Homo sapiens: one gene and its partner. The protein of the gene in region 1 purifies or fractionates together with the protein of each later gene. This does not show direct contact. Each region holds a gene or a part of one and is shown on either strand. Other genes may lie near its edges. The genes, in order: AWAT2 and HERC3.

Region 1 (4,604 bases):
AACCAAAACCTGTGCTATAACAATTTTGGGAGGATGGGGGAAGAGGAAGTTCTAGTGATAGTGTGCACAGCCAAATTCTCATCTTCCATATTAGGAAGTCAATAGACAATGTCTAAAATTGTTACATCAGCAAATAATAAGATTTAGAAATATGGAAGTAAATTCCAGAAGAAAGAACCAACAAAGTTGAAAAGCACTGCCTTGGGAAAGAGAATTAAGGGTAGAGCAAAGGCCAGCAGTTCTAGGGTTTTGATAAGTGCCATATGACACTACTGACTTCTTTGAGAAGTAAAGAGAGGCATTGGGTCTGATCCAGAGGACACCTCCCAGTTTCCTTTAGGCTCTGCTCAAACCTAGGCAGTGCTGGGGACATCTTGTAAGCGTGGCCTCAGGTGGGGTGCCCTGTGATGTGATGAATCTTGGATCTGCCACTTACTGTGTGTGACCAAAGACGTTGCTGAACCTCAGTTCCTCATCTGCAAGATGGGAACTAAAATACCAATATCTGCACTATTTCCCTCACTTATTGGGAGGGCCTTCTCTCAAGGCCTTTAGGGTCCGGATGGATTCAATTGCACTCCTAGAGTGAAGAGCTGAGAGGCCTCCGAAGGGCCATTGCCCCACTTGCCCTATGTGAACTAGTGAGGAAGGGGCAAACGCCTGCAGCCCATATCTGCTGCCAGGACCGAGAGCTCTTCTGCCTGCCCTCTCTGTACCTCTTAGTATACCCCGAAGTCAAACTCCAGTTAAGAGTCCTCTGAGTCCATTTTGTCCCTGGACTCATCCCCTTTCAGCCACTCTCCTCCTTAACCCTTCTCTGCCCCACCTGCCCCCCTGCCAGCTCACACTGGGACCTGATCCCTCAGTCTTGCTTCCTCCATTTCTCCCGTGCCCCCACCCCCCATCTTCAAGTCCTATTCATTCTACTCCAATTTCTTGAATCTCCCCTCTTCTTTCCTCTTCTCTGCATCACCATCACTACCGGCCTGGTCCAAATTACCGCCATCTGGATTATTGCAACAGCCTCCTACCTGGCATTGCCCCTTCCACTTCTATCTTCCTATAATCAGTTGACTTCACAGAGCTAGAGTAATCTCTGATGCCATCACCCTGTGTCAGTCTCCCTCATGGCTCCACATGGCTCTCAAAAAAAGTCCAAACTCCTTCCCATGGTTTACAAAGCCCTACACAATCTGTCCCCTGCCTGTTTCTCCAGTCTCTTCCTTCTTCCCTCTCTTGTTTGTTCATTCATTCATTCAATAAATATATATCGAGCACCAATTCTGTGCTTCTCACCCTCCACCTCACTTAACCACTGGCAGCTCCTTGAATGCATTATGTGCCCTTTGCCATCCTAGCTTTTCCATGTGTTGCCCACTCTCTGCCCCAAATGCTCTTCCTTTCTTCACCTATTTCCTATTTGTCCTTCAAGAGTCAACTCAAATTCAAGAGAAAAATGGGCAGAGGTCATAAATGGGCAGTTAACAGAAAAAGAAATACTAATTGCTGATAAACATGAAAAGATGCTCAAACTCATCAGTAATTAAGGACGTTCAAAATGAGGCGACAGCTCATGGTTTCTTGCCTATCACTTCTGGGTGGAGGTAGTAAGGACTGTGAATGAGTTCTCCATTCACTTTCCCTCCCATGCTGTGGTAATCCCTCAAGCCCCATTTTGCAGCGACACAATTTGGTGGTGCCTCCGTCAGCCTGAATATCAATGTCCACAGTGAGCGGTGACTCCCACCAACCTATGTTGGACATTCAGCATGAACAAGAAATAAACATTTGCTGGGTTAAGCCACTGAGATTTCAGGGTGAATTTATCAGCACGGCATACCTAGACCATCCTGATTAATACACCCTGAATGCTCCCACTTTGCAAATGAGGAAAACAAGACTCAGAAAGGATAAATACCTTGCTAAGAATTACACAGATAGTAAGTAGTAGAACTGGAATTTGAAAACAGGTGAGGTGAGGTAAGGAATGCCCACCCTTCCTATTCACTGGCGTGCCTCTGTGCCAGCTCTGTGCACCAAGGCCTATCTGCATTCTTTATTCCTAGATAGCTTGCAAGGTCACTTAATTCATTTCCCTGACTCCAGCCAGTACTCACCTGAACCACTGGAAAGGCAAGAATGTTTTCCAGGACCCCTTCCCACAGTGATGATTTGTTTCAGCATTTAGAACACAGTGGCCAGCATAGAAATAACTTTCACAAAGTGTTTGTAGTGTAAGCGTTGGAAGACATGGATGGATAAATTGTCGAATTCCTCAGGATGAGGTTTCCAGAGCCTCGGTCTGCCACCTGACCCAACTATCTCTAATTGGTGGTTTGCTTGAGTCCCTGTGATTGCAGCCAAGCCCTTTTCCTTGGCTAGCCTCAGTGGAACTGCTCCTCATCTTCCCAAAGAATGCCCTCTACACCCCAATGTAGACCGAGAAGGGCTCACACCTGCAGCAAAGTCCATGTGCATAGACGTGCATATACACACCCCTGCATAGGCACACACCCATATGCACACACACATGCCCACAGGGACACTCACAGATCCCACAAATACCATGGCCAGGTGGGTCAGGCCAGAGGCTGGTGTTACCAACCTTCCTGGTTTTACTGGAACAACCCTAGTTTGACCATTGAACATCCTGCAACCCTAAAATCCTTCAGTCTCAGGCAAGCCAGGATGGTTGGTCACCCTACCAAAGGCTGAAGACTCACTGATAAGCAAGGCACTGAAGGACCACTGGAAAACAGCAAAGACATCCAGGGCAGTCTTGAGGTCCTTCTTAGAGGGCAAGAGCATTGTGCCCAGCGTCCCAGTGGCTCCAGGTAAGCACTGTTCAGCTGCCCAGCCCTGATTGCTCAGGAGTCTGTGATGTTTCCTCTCTTAATGTTTTCTTCCCCAGCCTCTGGCTAGCCTCCGCCCCTGTACCACCCCTCCACAGAATTACAGGACCATATAATGCCTCTGCTTATCCAGTTCCTTCCAGCTGCCCACTCACCTGTACTTTTACCCACTTGGGTATTGCCTGGACTGAGATTGTGACACTCCTTTGCGCACTTGGCTAGAGAAATGTGATGAAACCCTGGTGTGAAAGTTAGTGTGGGCGTGCAGCTGACAAGAGGCCTCCAGGGCCAGTCTGGATGGTGGAGAGTGATGGGCAGGAAGGAGCCCAGGGCTCAAATGGGACACAGGGCTTGCATTTCTGTTTCTGAGGCCCAACTGTCTATGGTCTCTCAGTGACAATGGGATTGGAGGGCAGAGGGAAGGAGGTCACAGGCAAGGCCTTAGAAATACCTTCAGCCTTTTAGTCAGTCTGGGAGAACTCATTACTCACATTGAAGAGACATCACATGTATGTCTGTGAGCTATCATAGGTACTGAATAAACCTATTATTGAATGAAGAAACAAATATTGGTGTATATTATTCTGTGTACATGAAATTTTAGAATAGGCAAAACCAATCTATAGTGAAACAAATCACAGCAGTGGTTACCTGTGCTTGGGGATTGACTAGGAAGGGGCATGATGGAAACCTTTAGGGGTAACAGTGACGTTCTCTGTCTTGATAGGACTGTGAGTTACACAGATCAAAACCTCATTACTCAGTGAGTATACACTTAAAATGTGTACGTTTCACTGCCTGTGGATTTTACCTCGAAAGTAAAAAAAAAAAGTTGAACTCTCATTAATTCTGAAGTGTTTAGGGGTGAAGAATACTAGGCTGGGCATGGTAGCTCACACCTGTAATCCCAGCACTTTGGGAGGCCAAGGCAGGAGGATCACTTGAGGCCAGGAATTAGAGATTACAGTGAGCTATGACCGTGCCACTGCACTCCAGCCTGGATGACAGAGTGAGACACTGTCTCTAAAAAAACAAAACAAAAAAGAGTGCTGATGTCTGCAATTTACTTTGAAATGCATGTAAAATATATTGATGGATGGATACAGGGATGTACTGATGGATAAATATGTAATAAATCAAACAAAGATTGATTTATTAAATCTAGTAAAATATATAAATATTTTATATTTTTAATATTTTAATATTTTTTATATTTTAATATATTTTTATATATTAATATTTATATATAATATATTAAATATATTTTTATATTTTAATATTTTATATTTTATATTTCTGTACAGATAACATAAAATATTATCTGTACAATCTAGGTGGTGGGTATTCACTGTACAATTCTTTCAACTACTCGGTAGGTTTGAATTTTTTTATAATAGAATTTTGAAAAAAGAGTTCCCTCAAGGTCATACTTTGGGAGGCCGAGGCAGGCAGATCACCTGAGGTCGGGAGTTCGAAACCAGCCTGACCAACATGGAGAAACCCCATCTCTACTGAAAAATACACAATTAGCCGGGCGTGGTGGCACATGCCTGTAATCCCAGCTACTCAGGAGGCTGAGGCAGGAGAATCGCTTGAACCCAGGAGATGGAAGCTGTGGTGAGCTGAGATCGCACCATTGCACTCCAGCCTAGGCAACGGGAGCAAAACTCTGTCTCAAAAAAAAAAAGTAGTGGCTCGCTCCTGTAATCCCAGCATTTTGGGAGGCCAAGGTGGGTGGATCACATGAGGCCA
Region 2 (3,819 bases), on another chromosome or scaffold:
GTCATTGCAGCTCAGTAACTTCTGTGTTCCAGATGGACTGGGATGTTACTTGAGTGTGGTCTCGCCGTGAATAAAGAGATTGTGTTCCTGAAGGTGGAATACTGGCTTTTCTATATTGCCTCCACCTTTGTAGAAGAGATAAAAACAGAAATAATAATGAAAGCACTAGTAAATGTTAGTACTTAATTTTTTTTAAGATCAAAAGCCTTTTGGGGGCACATTTTCTCAGGTGTTCTAGTTGATGTGAAACAGAGAGGTGGCAATATCAGAAGAAATCTTACCTGACTTTCAAGTTTTAGAGTTTTTTCATTTTTATTTTTCCAGGCTGGAAAATACAAAGAGAACATAATTGTTCAATTTTACACTTTATTTTTAACTTCTAATTATTGATATTTAAAAGAATACCCCAAAGTAGAGAGTATGCTACAGGTAGTCACCACACAAATTCAGCAGTTGTCAGTATTTTGCCCATTTTATTTCATCTGTCCCTCGCCCTCACCACCTTTTTATTTTTTGTTGGAGTATTTTAAAGGAAATCTCAGACATACTATTTCATTCTTTAAGTATTTCAGTATGGCTGAGTTTATTTCCAACGAAGTATAAGCCAGTGGTATATCTTCTTGTCTGGTTATGAGAAAGCATTTTTTGGTGAGAAGTAAAAATCGTAGTTTTTCAACTAATGATACCTCTTAAAGGGAAGGGAATGGTTGCCATATTGGTGCTGCTTCTAGGGTATGTGGTGCGTCATCCTTTGCATTTCTGCTTCAGGATTTAGTGATGGCTGAAAGCGCTAGGACATAAGAATGCTTTTTGGATTAATACATTGGGCATCACTCCTGCCCAAAATATGTGTATCTTGTCCACATGTAGTCTGGAATTGGACTTTTAAGTTAACCTTCAGATTGAGTCTTTGCAAAAAATCAGACCAGGCTTTACAAAAAAAGCTCCAGGGATTCTTTTACAGCTGTTGTTCTCCCCAAAAAGGTTTTAATGGATTCTTTTTAAAGTCAGTTTTGGGAAAATGTATTTTAGACTAATGTTTATCTTCTAGACAAAGCAATTTTTAACTGGCAGGCAGAAGACATAAATACTTGCCCAAGATTACATGTTGAAATATGTCTTTTCTTTCTTTCTAAAGATAACTGGTGGTCTCAGGTATGCCCGAAATATTTCATGAAGCTGGTAAACCTCTATAAAGGTGCAGTCCTTTATCTACTGAGGGGAAGAAAGACATTCTTAATTCCCGTACTGTTTAACAATTATATCACAGCAGCTCTCAAACTCTTGGAGAAGTTATATAAGGTGAGCATAGGAGGTGCTAGTGGGGAGGGGGTGATTAGATGGTAGGGTAAAATGTCCTAGTGAGATGTTCTCTGGGAAGCCATGTTTCAGTTGTCTGTATTTTGTTCTTCATTAGGTAAATCTTAAAGTGAAGCATGTGGAATATGATACATTTTACATTCCTGAGATTTCCAATCTCGTGGACATTCAGGAAGACTACCTCATGTGGTTCTTGCATCAAGCAGGGATGGTAAGAATTCATAAAGCATATTTTAAAGCTTTAGTCTTTTTATAAGAAAAGCACATGTGAGCTGTATAATATGTCTTTGACTTTGATGTCAGTGTGTCACCTATTCTTCATCCAGCTGGCCTTTTGCATTCTAGAAACTTGGAAGTGCTTTAAGTAATCATCAATGTTATAAGGAGTCATAAATGAGTAGTCACCCAGAATGTTACACATTTTATCAGTTGCCCCCTTTAAAAAAATCAGAGTATCTAAAGTAGTCAAATCCACAGAAACAGAAAGTACAGTGGTGATTGCTAGGGGCTGGAGGCAGGGGAAAATGGAGAGTTGCTATTTAATGAGTATAGCTTCAGTTTTGCAAGATAAGAAAGTTTGGAGATCCAATTGTACACCAGTGTGACTATACTTAACACTGCTGAAAGTGTACACTTAAAAATGCTTAAGATGGTACATGTTATGTTAGGTTTTTTTTTAAACCATAATTAAAAAAACAAGACACATACAAATATGAATTTTTAGCTTTCCTCAAAACTTGGAAGATCTGGCAACACGACCTGTCTTCCCATATGACACCAAGTGGCTGGAGTTCAAGAGTGACTCTTTAGATGAGGCTTATGTATATGCCACAATTCCCACTGCAGCGTAATTTATCCCTGACATTGAGGAAGGGTCATTTGCTAATTATCATCTTCTGACAGCCTACTCCAGTCATCATATGTCAGCTACCTGGACCCCGTAGGCCCCTTCTGATTGAGAATTATGTGTGTGAAAGTGTCACACATCCCTGACCAAGTGCTGTCTCACCGTATTTTAGATATGCCATTCAGGGGCCTGTGGATTCCTGCCTACCACCTCTGGCGTGGCAGGAACTGCTCCTTTTGATAGCACACCAGCTTGGGATATATGCAAGGCTCTTTAGGATCTCCCATCTGTGGAGTATGTGCAAATTTGAGTTAGGTCAGAAAACAGAATGATAATTTGGTTATTGTATTTTGTGAAGCCATGTGCAGCAGATTTGAGGTGAGTCCTTGCCAGTGTAGCAGGTTCATCACCAGTATTAGGGCAATATTTTTCCTGTGGGGTTTTTGGAAGTCAGCAGTTGTCTCCAAAAGCAAGACATTTAAATAGGCTGATCTAACTGAACAAGAAGGATTGTTTTCTTTGTCAAATAATAGATGATGAATGCTAGACACAATGTTGTATTTTTTTCTCTAGAGACTTAAAAAATGCATACAATGTTTTATTTTTAAATAAGATTTTATGATTACCCTGAGAAAACAAAATACTTTTTTTTTGAGACAAGGTCTGGCTCTATCACCCAGGCTGGAGTGCAGTGGCACCATCTTGGCTCACTGCAACCTCTGCTTCCCAGGCTCAAGCCATTCTCCCACCTCAGCCTCCCGAGTAGCTGGGACTACAGGTGCGTGCCATCATGCCTGGCTAATTTTTGTATTTTTTGTAGAGATGGGGTTTTGTGATGTTTCCCAAGCTGGCCTTGAACTCATGAGCTCAAGTGATTCACCAGCCTCGGCCTCCCAAAGTGCTGGGATTACAGGGGTAAGCCACTGTGCCTGGCCAGGAAAATACTTTTTAATATAAATGAGTTAGAGTGTTCTAAATGGGCTGACTTGGGAAATTTAACATGGAGGCTAGTAATGAACTCTGTTTTCACTTTCAAATTTAGGAATTATTAAAAAATAAGCCCTTCTGTTTTATCAATTTATGAATAATTATTCACTGAATAATAACATTATGAGCAGAAAAATAAGCCTGATGAATTATTTAGTCCAACTGCTTTGTTTCTAGATGAGGAAATGGAAGTTAAACAATTTTTCCACTAATTTCATTAGTAGCAGTAAAAGTCAATTCTTCTGATTTCTAATCTACCCTTTCTGTGACTTGATGCTGAATAAAATAAGTCTAACAAATTGTAATTCTTTTTTACTCTGAAAAAGAAGTTGCTCATGTTAAAATCTAGATTATTATGACAGTAGTCTCTGAGTAGAGATATTTAAGTAACTTTTACAATATTTTAAACTTCCTTTCTTTTAACATTTGATAAATATCTTATCAGATCTTGAATAACAGATGCTCATCTCTTCAATAACTATAATAGTTATTAAAGAAATATGGAAAATTACATGAAATTAGTATATGGCCTTTTGTGATTTTTGTGGAATTTTTTTTATTGTATGAGGTACAATGCTATTAGAAATTGAATTTTAAATGTCTTGATATTTTGAAGTTTAATTTAAAATACTAAAGCTATTTCATATGTTATTTTTGTTTAACTA

What was found.
Region 2: the proteins of AWAT2 (region 1) and HERC3 purify together in Homo sapiens (affinity purification with mass spectrometry; one large-scale study listed by BioGRID and IntAct). This does not show direct contact.

Annotation. Positions count from the first base shown.
Region 1 is NC_000023.11:70,047,125-70,051,728, forward strand, and holds the start of AWAT2 (acyl-CoA wax alcohol acyltransferase 2), read right to left. Parts: upstream 2,815-4,604; 5' UTR 2,809-2,814; coding exon 2,724-2,808; intron 1-2,723. UniProt on the Homo sapiens protein: Acyltransferase that catalyzes the formation of ester bonds between fatty alcohols and fatty acyl-CoAs to form wax monoesters.
Region 2 is NC_000004.12:88,668,722-88,672,540, forward strand, and holds part of HERC3 (probable E3 ubiquitin-protein ligase HERC3), read left to right. Parts: intron 1-1,138; coding exon 1,139-1,302; intron 1,303-1,417; coding exon 1,418-1,531; intron 1,532-3,819. UniProt on the Homo sapiens protein: E3 ubiquitin-protein ligase which accepts ubiquitin from an E2 ubiquitin-conjugating enzyme in the form of a thioester and then directly transfers the ubiquitin to targeted substrates.